2 separate regions of the Homo sapiens genome follow, and region 1 is linked to region 2. The links come from fine-mapping of genetic effects on gene expression. A gene starts in region 2. The other region holds a variant in brackets. All regions are shown on one strand. Distances are from middle to middle.

Region 1 (8,321 bases), 98 kb before region 2:
CGGTCATCAAGATACATAATATTGTCATGCATTTTTTTCTTTTTGAGATAGGGTCTGGCTCTGTCACCCAGGCTGAAGTACAGTGTTATGATCTCGGCTCACTGCAGCCTTGAACTCTTGGGCTCAAGGGATCCTCCTGCCTCAGCCTCCCGAGTAGATGGGACTACAAATGCATGCCACCACGCTGGGTTAATTTTTTTTTTAAGTTTTTGTAGAGACGAGGTCTTGCAATGTTGTCCAGTCTGGGCAATATATATATAAAGAGAGACAGAGAGAGAAAGCAAAAGCAAAAGAAAGCAAAAGCTGAAGGCTGGATTCATCCTGGGTGAATTACCCATCTCATTATAATGCAAAGTCCATTTTAAACCCAAGTTTCTGGCTGGGCGTGGTGGCTCACGCCTGTAATCCCAGCACCTTGGGAGGCCAAGGAGGGAGGATCACTTGAGGCCAGGGGTTGAGACCAGCCTGAGGAACATAGCGAGACCCCCATCTCCACAAAAAATAAAAATAATGAGCCAGGCATGGTGTAGCCTGCAACCTGGGACATCTGGCCAACCTACCCACTTTTTTTTTTTTTTTTTTTTTGAGACAGAGTCTCACTCTATCACCCAGGCTGGAGTGCAGTGGCGTGATCTTGGCTCACTGCAAGCTCCACCTCCCAGGTTCACACCATTCTCCTGCCTCAGCCTCCTGAGTATCTGGGACTACAGGCTCCCGCCACTGTGCCTGGCTAATTTTTTTGTTATTTTTAGTAGAGACAGGGTTTCACCGTGTTAGCCAGGATGTGTATATATTTTTTTGAAATGAAGTCTCTTGTCACCCAGGCTAGAGTGCAGTGGCACAATATCAGCTCAATGCAATCTCTGCCTCCTGGGTTCACGTGATTTCCTGCCTCAGCCTCCCAAGTAGCTGGGATTACACTGGTGCCCGCCATCATGCCCGGCTAATTTTTGTATTTTCAGTAGAGAAGGGGTTTCGCTATATTGCCCAGGCTGGTCTTGAACTCCTGACCTCAAGTGACCTGCCAGCCTTGGCCTCCCAAAGTGCTGGGATTACAGGCATGAGCCACTGCATTTGGGCATCCCCAGTTGAGTTTCTGATGAGACCACAGCCCAGCCAACACTCTGACTGCAGTCTTGTCAGACCCTGAGCAGAGGATCCAGCCAAACCATGCCCAGCCACCCAACCCACAGAAACCACAAAACCATGAGACAGTAAACAGGAGGTGTTTCAAGTTGCTACATTTGTGGTAATTTGCAGAAAACTAGGCCAGGTGCAGTGGCTCAGGTCTGTAATCCCAGCACTTTTGGAGGCTGTGGCAGGAGGATCGCTTGAGCCCAGGACTTTGAGATCAGTGTAGGCAACATAATGAGATCCCATCTCTAAAAAAAAAAAAAAAAAAAAAAAATTACAAATTAGCCAGGGTGGTAGCACACACCTGTAGTCCCAGCTACTTGGGAGGCTGAGGCAGGAAGATCACTTGAGCCCAGGAGGTTGAGGCTGCAGTGAGCTGCGATCAAGCCACTACACTGCAGCCTGGGTGAGGGTGACAGAGCAAGACCCTGTCTTAAACAAACAAAAGCTAATACAATCATTAACAGGCTTCTTAAATTTGACACTGACCAAACTGAGCTCTCATATCCCTCCTCAGTCTCCTCTTCACAAAAATGCCTGCTCCTCCCACAGTCTTCTCAGCTCAGACAGCAGCTCCACTTTCGTACTCACCCAGGTACAAAAAAATTTTTTTTAAAACCTGGGTTTGGCCGGGCACAGTGGCTCACGCCTGTAATCCCATCACTTTGGGAGATGGGTGGATCACCTGAAGTCAGGAGTTTGAGACCAGCATGGCCAACATGGTGAAACCCCATCTGTACTAAAAATACAAAATTAGCTGGGTGTGGTGGTGGGCGCCTGTAATCCCAGTTACTCTGGAGGCTGAGGCAGGAGAATCACTTGAACCCGGGAGGTGGAGGTTACAGTGAGCCGAGATCACACCTTTGCACTACAGCCTGGACAATGAGAGCAAAACTCTGTCTCAAAAAAAAAAAAAAGAATTAGCCGGGCATGGTGGCGTACACCTGTAATCCCAGCTACTCAGGAGGCTGAGGCAGGAGAATTGCTTGAGCCCAGGAGGCGGAGGTTGCAGTGAGCTGAGATTGCGCCACTGTGCTCCAGCCTGGGCGACAGAGTGAGACTCTGTCTTTAAAAAAAAAAAAAAAAAAAAAAAAAAACTGGGTTTATCCTTGATGCCCTGGCACATCCCAAACCCAGTCCATCCAAAAACGTTGTCAGACCGTCTGCAGGGTAGCTCTAGAATTGGGCCCCTACGCCATGTCTAGCCTGGTCTAAGCAGGGCATCGCCCAGGCTCACAAAATGCCACTTCCATCTTCCCCTCCCTGGGTCTATTCTCAACGGGAAGCCTCAGGGAGACAGCTAAGACCCGCGTCAGGTGACATCCCACCTCTGCCCAAACCTCCCCACAGCGACCGGGTCTAACTGTCCTCATCTCCAACCCCTCCCTCCTTCAGCCCCAGCTTCACTGGCCTCCTCGCCGATCCCCAAACATGCACAGCATGGTCCAGCCTCAGTGCCTTCAAAGGCACAGGCTGTGTCTCCTGCCTGACATCCTCAGCTATACCCTAATGTGCCCTTCACATTCTCTGCTTTTTTTTTTTTTTTGGTCTCTCAAATTTTGCAAACTGCACCCATGGGAGTAGATGGTAGGATGGTTTCTGCCACATGCAGAGCCTGGAACTGCTTAATTCCCATTTGTCTTCCCTTAACCATTGGAAAAGGGGAGCCAGGAAAAACGCAGCCGCCATGTGCAGTCTCTCCGTTCCGTAGCCTAATGCCTCCTGAAAGAGCAAGTTATTTCCCTCTGCCTCTCCGGCCCCACAAATCCAGAGAGTTACAATTTGATAACTATAGCTGGCACATCATTCCTCAAGAGCTGTAACACTGAAAAATATACCTTTAATAAAAGTAAGTGGATAAAGCCAGGCATGGTGGCTCATGCCTATAATCCCAACATTTTGGGAAGCTGAGGCAGGTGGATCACTTGAGATCCAGAGTTCGAGACCAGCCTGGCCAACATGGTAAAACCCTGTCTCTACTAAAAATACAAAAATTAGCCAGTCATGGGCTGGGTGCAGTGGCTCATGCCTGTAATCCCAGCACTTTGGGAGGCCAAGGTGGGTGGATCACCTGAGGTCAAGAGTTCAAGACCAGCCTGGCTAACACAGTGAAACCCCATCTCTACTAAAAATACAAAAAATTAGCCAGGCATGGTGGCAGGTGACTGTAGTCCCAGCTACTTGGGAGGCTGAGGCAGGAGAATGGTGTCAACCCGGGAGGCAGAACTTGCAGTGAGCTGAGATCGTGCCACTGAATTCTAGCCTGGGCGACGGAGCAAGACTCCCTCTCAAAAAAAAAAAAAAAAAAAATTAGCCAGTCATGGTGGTGCACACCTGTAATCCCAGCTACTTGGGAGGCTGAGGCAGGAGAATCACTTGAACCCAGGAGGCAGAGGTTGCAGGGAGCCAAGTTTCCACCACTGCACTCCAGCCTGGGCAATGGAGCAAGACTCCATCTTGAAAAAAAAAAGTACATAAGCATTTTCTATGTGACAGGTGTTGTATTAAACAATATTTACAGTCATCATCTCATTTATTGCCACATTTCTCCTATGAGACTGGTTCTATTCTGACCAAAGATGAATTGGAGGCACCGAAGAGTTAGGTAACTTGCCCAAGGTTATAGATGTGGTGGTTTTTAAATATCTCCAAAAATTATTTGCTATCCTCACCTAGCAGAGCCTAATTTCCCTCTCCGAGTGTGTGTTGGACTTATTGACTCACTTGTAATGAATAGAATATACCAGAAGCAATGGATCTAGGCTTCTGAGGTTAGATCATAGAAGCACTATGGCTTTGTTCTTTCTCTCCCTTGAATCACCAGCCCTGGGGGAAGCAAGCAGCCATGTTGTCAGGATGCTCGAGCAGCACTATGGTGATTCCCATGTGGTGAGGAACTGAGGCCTCCCACCAACAGCCACATGAGGACACCAGCTTTGAAGTGGCTCTTCCAGGCCCAGACGAGCTTTCAGATGAGGCAGCCCTGGCCCATGTCTTTTTTTTTTTTTTTTTTTTGAAATGGAGTCTCGCTCTGTCGCCCAGGCTGGAGTGCAGTGGCGCAATCTTGGCTCACTGCAAGCTCCACCTCCTGGGTTCACGCCATTCTCCTGCCTCCGCCTCCTGAGTAGCTGGGACTACAGGTGCCCGCCACCACGCC[C/T]GGCTAATTTTTTGTATTTTTAGTAGAGGTGGGGTTTCATCGTGTTAGCCAGGATGGTCTTGATCTCCTGACCTTGTGATCTGCCCTCCTCAGCCTCCCAAAGTGCTGGGATTACAGGCGTGAGCCACCGCACCCAGCCCCTGGCCCATGTCTTAACTGCAACCTCATGAGAGACCATGGGCCAGAACCACCCAGATAAATCACTCCCAAATCCTTGGCCCACAGAAACTGTGACAGAATAAATGTCTGTTGTTTTAATTGGCTAAATTTGAGAGACATTTGTTATGCAGTAACCAAAAACTAATACACAGGACGGCAGGTCCCAGGGCTCTTCTGTCTGGTGTTCCTTATTTACTTTTTTGGTTTTTGAGATAGGGTTTCACTCTGTCACCCAGGCTGGAGTGCACTGATGCTATCACAGCTCACTGAAGCCTCAACCTCCTGGACTCAAGCAATCCTCCCACCTCGGCCGCCTGAGTAGCTAGGACTACAGGTGTGCACCACCACACCCGGCTAATTTTTTAAATTTTTGGTAGAGACAGGGTCTCACTCTCTGCTTTTAATGGCCAATGTTTTCTAGTTGCTCAAAACCATGGTTCAACCTCTCCAAGGAGAAATTCAGGGGGTTCCCTTTTTTTCCAAGCAGTTTCAATAAAACCCAAAGGTTCACCTCAGCTTCATTCTTGAGCTTCTAAATTTCTTCTCTTCTCTTTCTCCATCTCTTTTTTAAAATTATTTATTTATTTATTTTGAGACAGAATCTCACTCTATCACCCAGGCTGGAGTGCAGTGGTGTTATCACAGCTCACTGCAGCCTCCAACTCCTGGGTTGAAGCAATCCTCCCACCTCAGCTTCCTAAATAGTTGGGGCTATGGGTGCACACCACCATGCCTGGCTCATTTTTTTAGTTTTTGTACAGATGGGGTCTTGCTATGTTGCCCAGCTGGTCTCAACTTCCTGTGCTCAAGTGATCCTCCTGCCTCAGCCTCCCAAATAGCTGGGACTACAAGCCTGCACCATCATGCCCCCAGCCTCGGTCTGGGCTCTTTAGCTGTCTTGCCCACCTGTCTGTGTAGTTTTTTTGTTTTTTTTGTTTGTTTGTTTGTTTTTTCCTTCACCTAATCCAAGATGATCACAGTTTTCGGACACGTCCATCCCATTCGATTCCGCATCTTTGGTCCCACGGCAGCCAAAGCCCGTTTATAGAACAGACAGCTGTTGTCTACGCCATGGCCTCTCTTATTTCTTCCTGTCCCCTGTCCTCAGGCCTGAATCTAGTCAGGAAATCCTCCCCTCCTCCATCGCCCCAACATCATGAAATAAATCACTCAGCAAGCCTACAGGAAATTTAATAAGCTTGGTCTCCTTTTTTTTTTCATTTTGTCTATGGTCTTTTTGTTAGGCTTTCATGGGAAGAGGTGTTTGTGAGAAAACTATTTGCAGCAATGGTATCTTGTGTTCTTTTAGCTTTATAATGTGGACAGAGGAGAAAGGAGTCAGTAATCGTGTGGGAGGGAAGACGCCGATAAACATGAGTGATACTAAGGGACCCAGAGGAAAACGCAGAGATTAAAAAATAACCTTCCAATCACTTATGAGTTGTATCATTTAAAATTAATACAGCTCCTAAATGCAATGTGGGATCCTGGATTGCAACGTAGAACAGAAATATTGGTGGGAAGACAGAGTGTGGCACCCACAGTCGTGCGTCAGTTTTGCTCTTTTTTTTTTTTTTGAGATGGAGTCTCGCTCCGTCGCCCAGGCTGGAGTGCAGTGGCGCGATCCTGGCTCACTGCAAGCTCTGCCTCCCGGGTTCACGCCATTCTCCTGCTTCAGCCTCCCGAGATTACAGGCGCCCGCCACCAGGCCCGGCTAATTTTTTTTGTATTTTTAGTAGAGATGGGGTTTCAGCGTGTTAGCCAGGATGGTCTCGATCTCCTGACCTCATGATCGGCCCGCCTCAGCCTCCCAAAGTGCTGGGATTACAGGCGTGAGCCACCGTTCCCGGCCCAGTTTTGCTCTTTGTTCTGTGGTCAAAGGTGTCAACGCAAGGGGACACTGGGTGGAAGGTGGGTGTGCGGGGACTCTCTGCACCATCTTCACAACTAAAATTATCCCCCCCAATTTTTTTTTTCATAAAGGTAAAGTGTAAACAAAACAACAAAGGGCTGGGTGCCGTGGCTCCCGCCTGTAATCTCAGCACTTTGGGAGGCCAAGGTGGGAGGATTCCTTGAGCCCAGGAATTCAAGACCAGCCTGATCAACATAGTGAGATCCCATCTCTGCAAAACAACAACAACAAAGGAAGCCTTATGCAGTTATGAGTGGATCACCCAGAATATGTTATCCTCTGCATCCATTTCAGAGCAACACACAGAAACATCAATGGCTTAGAACAGCCTGCAGGGCTGCGTCAACCATCAACTTCAATAAAACCCCAAGGTTCGCCTCAGCTTCATTCTTGGGCTTCTAAATTTCTTCTATTTATGCGTCTTTCATTCATTCATTCATTCATTCATTCACTTATTTATTTGAGACAGGGTCTCACTCCGTCACCCAGGCTGGAGTGCAGTGGTGTGATCACAGTTCACTGCAGCCTCCAACTCCCGGGCTCAAGCGATCCTCCCATCTCAGCCTCCTGAGTAGCTGGGACTACAGGTGCTGGGTCTACAGGACTACCGGGAGGCTGAGATGTGCTTATACCAACAGCGTCCTGTTGGTGTAGGGCTCATAGGCTTATGAGAGTTGATCCAGCCCTCCCAATAATCCCAGGGTATACAGGAGACAGGTCCAGCTAATATCAGCATGCCCATTTACAGAGGAGGAGATTAAGGCTCTCTCTGCCTCTCCCTCCCTCCCTCCCTCCCACTCTCACTCTCTCTCTCTCTCTCACACACACACGCGCGCACGCACACACACACACACTCACACACAGAGTTCTTGGAATTCTAGTGACTCCTCCACATTGCTGGGCAGCTTCCCTGTTATGCTCCCCGAGAACCCTGCTCCCCAGCTAAGCCAGGTGAGCCTGGGGGACCGAGGGGCGCAGGGCCGGGAGCTCTAAACCCTGCCCCAGTGTCGGCACCCAGGGTCCAGTCCTGCCTCCCCAAGCACCAGCTCCATCACCCACAGTTGCACGCACAGATGCACGGGGAATCACGCGACCTCACTCCCTCCCACACTCTCGCCTGTCCCCCCACCCCCCCACAACTGCTCCTACCTCAAATCTCCACCCATGTGTCTGCCATCAGAGAAGGGACGCCTTTGCCTTCATTCCGCCCTCACCTGCGATCCATCTACCATGCCTCCACGTCTCCGCAAAGCCCTTAACCAACCACAGTGACAACAGGGTTTGAACTCCGATGCTCCAGCGTTCCTGCAAGCTCTCGCCCCGCGGACAGAGTCCCCAGCCTGGGCAACCGGCCACCAACACCTTTTGCCTAAGGACTCTCCAAGCTCCGTATTTTACACCCTAAACATTCCAAATTCTGCAAAGGGAATTTTAGACAGTCCAAGAATGCTCTTTAGGGACGGGACCCAGCGCGCAGTGGGCCACATGGTCCCCAACTCACGTTCACACGCTGTGGGCAGCGGGGCACACACGGACTCCCATTCCGCGTGGCAGGACAAGCAGGCGGCGTGAGGCTCTGCAGGGCCCAATTACCCCACGGTCAGGCCAGCCTGAGCGCTGGGACCCTGATCCCCATGCCCCAGATGAGAAGACTAGGAAGAGGGGATTTGCACACACAACCACAACCTCACACAACACACACACAACACACAACCACACACAACACATTACCACACACAACCTCACACAACCAAACACAACCACACATTACAACCTCACACAACCACACACCACAACCACACACACCCTCACAAAACACACCTCACACAACCACATACAACCACACACAACCTCACTCCACCATCCACAAATTATACACAATCTCATCATGCAAGTACACACACAACCACGTTACAACTCCACAAATCTCACATACAATGACCATACAGCTAAACACAA
Region 2 (8,321 bases):
ACACAATATTAAACTTCAAGAAATACACCGCTAATTCGGAGTGAGCGTTTATTTGCACGATTACAACATGCGGACAAACCCAGGCGAGATGAGCGAGTCTACGGTTCCTACCCACCCGGCTGACAAGGGGTGGCCCCAGGGGCCGGATGCCCAGCCCCGAGGCGGCCCTACTCCTCCTCCTCTCCCGAAGACTCTCTCTCGAACGTGTAGGCCATGAAGCAAGCGTCGGGTCTCTTGGGGACAAGGGGATGCCCCGGTCTCACAATCTCAAAGCCCAAAAAGCTGAAGGTTCGGAGCAAGGCGGCTGCGGGGGAGAAGCCGTCAGAACCCCTGCCGACCAGAACCCCCCGCCCGCACCCCCCACCCCCGCAGGGAGACCGTGCCTGCGGGCTGAGAATGAAGGGGCGGCGCAGGCACCCCCACGCACCCTACTGCAGGCGATACGGGTCACCTACCTCTGTCCTCGCGGTTCTTGTGGAAGCAAATGAAGACATGGTCGGCTCGCAGCTGCTCCTCAGCGAACTCCAGGAGAACTGCAAAGCTGCAGCGAGTGTCAGCGTCTCGGCTGGCCCGACCCACCTGCCTACCTCCTGGGCCTTAGCAGCTACCCTGAGGCCCGCTCTACTCCAGGGTCCCCCTGGGGCCCAGATCGTCCTCTGGGTGGGGCCGTCCTGACACCACAGTGTTGAGCAGCACCGCTGCACCCACCCACGTGCATGCCCCATGACAGAAAAGCTCTGACACTGCCTGGCATCCCTTGGAGGGTAGAATCCCAGGGTACGAATTTGGAGTGCACTTTTTAAAAAGGGACCCCAGGCCGGGAGCGGTAGCTCACGCCTGTAATCCCAGCACTTTGGGAGGCCGAGGTGGGCGGATCACGAGGTCAGGAGTTCAAGACCAGCCTGGCCAACATAGCGAAACCTCGTCTCTACTAAAAACACAAAAATTAGCTGGGCATCGGTGGCGGGCGCCTGTAAGCCCAGCTACTCGGGAGGCTGAGGCAGGAGAATCGCTTGAACCCGGAAGGCAGAGGTTGCAGTGAGCCAAGATCATGCCACTGCACTCCAGCCTGGGCAACAAAAGCAAGACTCCATCTCAAAAAAAAAAAAAAGGGGGGACCCTGTCCCCACCAACAAAGCGATGGTGGCCCCCATATGTGCTGCCTGAAGGCAGTGCCCTCCCTCATCTGTCCCTGCACCCCTTGGGCAGCAACCCGCACCTGGTCCCTGCTCCCCTGGGTGAGCACTCCCCGCCTGTCCTTGCCCCTCACCTGGTCCCTGCTCCCCTGGGTGAGCACTCCCTGCCTGTCCTTGCCCCTCACCTGTCCTTGCTCCCCTCGGGCAGCGCGCCGCCCGGGATCTCGATGTAGAGGCTGCCGCCACTCAGCACTGTTCGCCAGTTAATGCGTTTGGCGTCTGTGAGCCTGGACTGGACGTTGAGAATCCTCGTCTTGTCGTTGGACGTTAGTTCCTCTGTTACATTCAGCCGATCATCCTGTCCAGGGGGTGCAGCCCAATTCAGAACCCTGACTCACCCCACAGGACTCCAAGAACCCGGCAGCGCTAAAGCTTGGGCCTAGGCCGTGTTGAGCTCAGGCAACGCCTGGGCTGCAGGAGACTGTGCGCCGGCTCTGATGAAACTCAGGGTTCCCACGATTACATTCAATCACAGGTACGGGCAGCAAGGTGCACAAGAAAGTACCTGTGGCCCCAGAGCAGCCCCAGCAGGCCCGGCCCCATACTCACGGAGTAGAATAAGTTAGCTGAAAGATTGTGATCCCTCTGACTATTCCCTCGCCCACCTGGGATCTTCAGGGGTGGGTGAGGGGCATCAGGAGCACCACCGAGGCCCCGGACCCGGGTTACTACAGCAGTGGAGGGAGACCCTGGAACTGAAGATGATGCAGGTCACGAGGCAGCGCCAGGCTCCGGGCGGAGACCCCTCCAGGGCGTCCGGGCGGCCTTCAGCACATCCCCACCCCTGCCTCGGCCAAAAGACCCCGCCCCGCCCAGGCAGGGGCCCACCCGGTCCCACACCCCCGAGGCTTCCCGAAGGCAGCTCCAACGCCTGCCCCAAGCACCTACAAGGGCAGCAGTCACTGAGCCCCGACTCCTCGGGCGGCGCCGCCCAGGACAGCCCAACCTTCCCAGGGCGGGGGGCCCCTTCCCCTCACGCAGCCCCGCCGGGGCAGAGCCTCACCCCCCGGCCACCAAGACAGCCAGCGCTTCCCCTTTTCAGTTCTGTCGCGGCTTCCCCTTTCCACCCTGCACTACGGCCAAAATCTGGGACTCTTGCTTGTCCCCGCGAAGACCGGGCGGGCCTAGCCTGACCTCATGGAGGACGCGCCCCGCTCCGGCTCCCGGCCGCCCGCCCCCCCGCCCCCGCTCCAGGCCCGGGCCCTCCCGGTTGCGTCATCCAGGCAGACGCGGCCTCGCGCCCCGGGGGAGATTTTCACAATCGCGCAGCCGGCAGCGCCAGCAGCCATTTGCTGCGCAGGGTAAACAGGCCCCAAAGTTGCCTCCATTTTGCACGGCCCCCAAACCGCGGCACCGCCAGCACCGCGGCCCAACCTCCCGATCCGGGGCTGAGCGACGCCCACCTCGGGGGACGCAGTCGGGAAAGCTCGACCGAGACCCCGCGGGCTCCCCCACAACCGCAGCTGGCACCCGCGCCCCCGGAAGCGGGACGCGTCTTCCCGGGAAGCGGCGGGGGTCTTCCCAGGGCGCTGCCGGGCTGTCGGAGTGCGCCACCCCCAGCTCCCCGGCGGCCCCCGCGGAGAAGCCCTGGGTGCCGTCTACGTGCGCGGCCTCGCCCGGCGCGTCCCGGGCCATCCAGACCGACTCGCTCAGGGGCGAAAAACGGGGCCCACGAGGTCCGTCGCGTGCAGGGGCCACATCGAGGCAACAGGGACCCGCGGGAGCTCGTCCACCGCAAAGCGCTCCCCGCTCCCGCAGCGCACGCTCGACGGCCGGGACCGAAAAGTGCAGATTCACCAGCCCCGCGGGCCCTGCCTGTCCGCGGACCAGCCCCCCAAGGCCGACCCCGCCCCCAACCAGATTGCCCCATCCTGCGCCTCCCAAATCCGACCCGACCGCACACCCTTCCTCCAAACCGAATTCCCAGTCTGCGCCCCGCAAATCCAACCCTCGACCAGAAGCCTCTCCCCTCCTCCGAAGCCGAGTCCCATCCCGCGAACCCCGCAAAAGACACACGCCTCCCCCGACTCCCCGTCCTGCGCCCAAATCCGACCTCCGACCCATGCCCCTCCCGCAAATCAGGCGCCCCGGACGGTGCCCCCCAAATCCAACTCCGCACCCTTGCCCCCCAAACCCGACTCCCCCGAGAGCACTGCTAAGGCCGGGGGGGACCTCCAGGCCCGCCCTGCGCCTACCTCGTCCCCGGCGCGATTCTGGCCTTGACAAAGGGGCGGATCTCGCGCGCCGGGGACCTATCTGGCGCCCCGAGGACGGCCCCCCGCAGGCCTGCGCGGCCGGCGCTTCTGGAAGCTTCGGACGGGGGCGGGGCACTTACCTCTCACTGCTGCTGCCGCCGCGGCTGTGCAGGCTTAGGAGCGGCATGGTGCGGCTGGCGTGGATGGTGGCGCTGGGTTTATCCCCTTCCTTCTCTCTGGCGAAGCAGTGGCTATTGAGGATCCGCTGCAGGGAGGATTTCACCATCCGGCCGCTGGGGTCCGAAACCAGGAAAACCTCCGCTGCGTCTCTCCGCGCCGCCGCCGCTGCTCGCCGTTCGCAAAATGGCGCCTCTGCCGCCGCCCGCCTTTATAGATGCTGCGCCCAGGCCACGCCCCCCGCGCCGCCGGGAACGCGACCGCACGAGGGGCAGAGCCGCGGGGCCGCCGGGAAAAAAAGTCGCGCCCGCCCCTCCCAGCGCCTGATTGGTGAAAGGGAAAGGGAAAGGAAGAGGCTCTCTGGAGATTGGTTGGTGAGCCTCGGGCCACGCCCCCTCCTGCGCGCGTCCTTCTGGGGGCGGGGCTGCCGTGGCGCCGGGTACGCGCTGCGCGCGCCCCGAGCCGTCCCCGCCCCCACAATCGTGCCTTGGGGGCGGGGGCGGCTCGCTGGGGCCGATTTTCGGGGGTCTTCGAGTGCCCGTTTGTCTGTCGTGGTCCACGTCGCCCTCCCTAGGGTCCCTTCACGCAGCGGGACCCCTCCCCTGGGTAGGCCCCCGGGTGCTTGGGGGGTTGTCCAACCGCGCCAGAATTATTTCCAGTAACACCTGGTAATCATCGATGATATTACTGGTTTTATTTTTTTAAATTTGGTCTTGCAGTTCTTAAAATGCTTCCAGTGTTTAAAAAAAAAGAACTTCCAATGTTAAAGATATTCAAATTTAGTAAAATATTTCGTGTACAATTTGGACTTAAGCAAAAATTTTACTCCTTGCAGATAAATTCAGATTTTTCCTGTGGAAACTGAAACTTACCCTAAGGAAAAACACTACTCCTGGCAGTTAAAATTCAGAAACACATCTCATGTATGAACTAAAATGTGGATCTCCCAAGGAAAAAACGATTTCTTTGGTGGTCAAGTTCGGTAAACTGTTTCGCCTGTGAGGTAAAATGTGGACTTACCTAGCAAAAATATTTCCCCTCCTGGTTAAATCCAGAAAAAAAATCTCAGGTATGAACTGCACTTTGCTTTTAATAAGCAAAGATATAACTCTTGGCAGTCACATACGGGTACATAGCTTGTGTGTAGACTAAATTATGAATTTAGCAAAAAGTTGCCACTTTGCAGTGAGGTTTAATAAAATATTTTTTATTTCATGTATAAACAAAATTTTGTTCTTACCAAGCAAAAATGCTACTCCTGGCAAATCCTGATTCCTTTCATGGTTTTAATTTTGTTTTGTTTGCGACCGGGCCTGGCTGTCACCCAGGCTGGAGTGCAGTGGCGCAATCTCGGCTCGCTGCAACCTCCGCCTCCCAGGTTCAAGCGATTCTCCTGCTTCAGCCTCCTGAGGAGCTGGGATTACAGGTGCCCGCCACCACGCCCGGCTAATTTTTGTATTTTTAGTAGAGATGGGGTTTCACCATGTTGGCAAGGCTGGTCTGGAACTCCTGACCTCAGGTGATCCGCCTGCCTCGACCTCCCAAAGTTTGGGGATTAACAGGCGTGAGCCACCGCGCCTGCCTGTCTTTCGAGATTTCGTACTGCACCAGAAGGCTGTTGTTGCATCTCTGCTACGAGCATTCGCTATTCAGGTGTTGAGGCAGAAATTAACTCCTGCGGTTGACATTTGGGGCCGCCCTGGGCACTGCAGGGCGCTGAGCAGCGTCCCTGGCCTCCACCCACTCCATGCCTTGAGCACCCCCAGTTGTGACAACCACAAGTATCCGCAGACATCACCCAGTGTCCCTTGGCGGGGGCAGAATCACCCTGGGTGAGACTCCCGAGTTAGGGGATTCCACGGACCCCCCCAAGAGACTCTGCATCCCATGATCCTCTGCCCTGCTGAGGTCCCAGGAGACTGCGCACGTTGAAATCCACACCTTGAGGCAGAGGTTGCAGTGAGCTGAGATGGCGCCGCTGCACTCCAGCCTGGTGACAGAGCGAGACTCTGTCACAAAAAAAACAAAAAAAAAGCAATCCACACCCTGAGTGGGGAAGGAGAGAGGAGAAGCATCCCAGGAGCTGGGGGCCTCCTGGTTTATACCGTTTGCCCCATTAGGAGTTTATCCTGAGGCTGGGCACGGTGGCTCACGCCTGTAATCCCAGCACTTTGGGAGGCCGAGGCGGGTGGATCACGAGGTCAGGAGTGCAAGACCAGTCTGGCCAACATGGTGAAACCCCGTCTCTACTAAAAATACAAAAATTAGCTGGGCATGGTGGCGCGTGCCTGTAATCCCAGCTACTCAGGGGGCTGAGGCAGGAGAATTGCTTGAACTGGCACCCGGGAGGTGGAGGTTGCAGTGAGCCAAGATTGCACCACTACACTCCAGCCTGGGCTACAGAGCGAGACTCCATCTCAAAAAAAAGGAGTTTATTCTGGTGTCTGGTGTGAGCAGAGAACAGACTCTGTTTCAAATAATTAACTCAGGGTCTCCTCCCTCGGACCCGTGGACATTGGGCTTGGATTGTTCTCTGGGGTGGGGCATCCTGGGCAAATGGTATGAACCAGGAGGGCCCCAGCTCCTGGGATGCTTCTCCTCTCTCCTTCCCCACTCAGGGTGTGGATTGCTTTTTTTTTTGTTTTTTTGTTTTTTGAGACGGAGTCTCGCTCTGTTGCCAGGCTGGACTGCAGCGTCCTGGGCACTGCAGGGTACTGAGCAGCGTCCCTGGCCTCCACCCACTCCATGCCAGGAGCACTCCAAGTCATGACAACCAGAAATGTCCCAAACATCATCCAATGTCCCTTGGGGGCAGAATGACGCCCCTAAGTTGAGGACCTCCTCTGGGAACAGAGGCAAGAGCCTGCTCGAAATGAACAGGTCACCGGTGCGATTTCCAGAACAGCCACGACCAGGGAGCCCCATCCCTCCATCCTGACTGCAGCAGCTCTCACTTCCTCCTCCTGCCTGCCTCTGATGGCCGCCTGCCAATGCTGTGAGGCTTCTAGAAGGGCCACCCCCACACTGGCCAGGCCACGTGGGATGAGCGCTAGGATCAGCAACTGCGCCCTGCTGGCCCACCTGGCCGGGTTCCCCAGAAACTCCCCAGGGTGGGAGGTGCTTTGCTGGGAGCTGGGGAGTCTGTGACTGGTGAGGGGCCTCCCGGACAGCAGGGAGAGAAAGAGGCATATCTTTCTCTGGAGGTGGTGAGGCTTGAACTGTCTGAAAGGGACAGCAGAGGATGTGGGGTGGTCAAGGATAGAGGGCCCATGCCTGGGTTTTCTTCTGAAATCAAGGTTGAGGGGATACGGCTGCTGGCAGAGGACGCAGAGAGTATGACTCTGATTGATTGATTGATGGACTGATTTTTTTTTTTTTTTTTTGAGACAGAGTCTCACCTGTAGCCCAGGCTGGAGTGCAGTGGCGTAACCTTGGCTCACTGCAACCTCCACCTACAGGGTTCAAGCGATTCTCCTGCCTCAGCCTCCCGAGAAGCTGGGACTACAGGCGTGCACCACCATTCCCGGCTAATTTTTGTGTTTAGTGGAGACAGGGTTTCACCATATTGGCCAGGACGGTCTCAAACTCCTGACTTCATGATCTACGTGCCTCCCAAAGTGCTGGGATTACAGGTGTGCCACCGCACCTGGCTGTTTGGTTTTTGAGACAGAGTCTCACTTTGTCACCAGGCTGGAGTTCAGGGTCATGATCTCGGCGGCTCACTGCAACCTCCCCTTCCCAGGTTCAAGTGATTCTCCTGCCTCGGCCTCCCAAGTAGTTGGGAATTACAGGCTCACGCCACCAGGCCCAGTTAATTTTGGTATTTTTAGTAGAGACGGGATTTCACCATATTGGTCAGGCTGGTCTCGAACTCCTGAACTCAGGTGATCCACCCATCTCACCCTTCCAAAGTGCTGGGATTACAGGCGTGAGCCACCGCACCCGGCTGACTCTGATTTAAAAGAGGGTATGTGGGCCCGGTGTGCACTTTGGGAGGCAGAGGCAAGAGGATCGCTTGAGCTCAGGAGTTCAAGACCAGCCAGGGCTACATAGCCAGACCCCATCTCTGCAGCAAATTTAAAAATTAGGGACATGGTGGTGCACACCTGTAGTTCCAGCTACTCCAGCGGCTGAGGCAGGAGGATCCCCTGAGCCAGGAAGGTCAAGGCTGCAGTGAACTATGGTCTCTCAACTGCACTGCAGCCTGGGTGACAGAGGGAGACCTTGTCTCTAAAAGAATTATAATAATGAGTTAAATAAAATAAAATGTAAACAGGTAAAAATAAAGAAGGATTGGGGCCGCGCACAGTGGCTCACGCCTGTAATCCCAGCACTTTGGGAGGCTGAAGCAAGAAGATCGCTTGAGCCCAGGAGTTGCAGACCAGCCTGGCCAACATAGCAAGACCCTATCTCTAGGTTCTCACTTTGTTGAGAATTTTAAAAACTTCTAGAAATTTTAAAAAATTAAAAAAATTTTAATTAGCTGGGATTGGGTGGGCATCTGTGATCCCAGCTACTTGGGAGGCTGAACCAAGAGGATCACTTGAGCCCAGGAGGTCAAGGCTGCAGTGAGCTGTGATCACACCACTGCACTCCAGCCTGGGGGACAGAGCAAGACACTGTCTCAAAAAAAAATGAAAGCAAGCAGGAAAATGGCCAAGCGTGGTGGCTCACGCCTGTAATCCCAGCACTTTGAGAGGCCAAGGCAGGCGGATCACGAGGTCAGGAGATCGAGACCATCCTGGCTAACACG

What was found.
Region 1: its variant is fine-mapped to the expression of OAZ1 in whole blood (TOPMed, PIP 0.97).

The regions. Positions count from the first base shown.
Region 1 is chr19:2,362,685-2,371,005 of GRCh38, reverse strand. All of the region lies in intron 1 of TMPRSS9 (transmembrane serine protease 9), which reads right to left. Among named protein-coding and RNA genes, the nearest start is that of TMPRSS9, 6.6 kb to the right of the region's middle. The variant C/T (reference allele first, on the strand shown) is at 4,292.
Region 2 is chr19:2,264,955-2,273,275 of GRCh38, reverse strand. It overlaps OAZ1 (ornithine decarboxylase antizyme 1), which reads right to left and starts at 3,790. Exons shown (of 5, transcript NM_004152.3): 1 at 3,532-3,790; 2 at 1,746-1,891; 3 at 1,322-1,494; 4 at 456-541; 5 at 1-304. The coding sequence starts at 3,677. The coding sequence ends at 168. It overlaps LOC105372240 (a long non-coding RNA gene), which reads left to right and starts at 4,023. Exons shown (of 2, transcript XR_936242.3): 1 at 4,023-4,174; 2 at 4,404-4,783. RefSeq lists silencers at 260-409, 1,949-2,288, 2,299-2,498, 2,709-2,768, 3,734-4,223 and enhancers at 610-669, 680-739, 3,477-4,091, 6,587-6,756.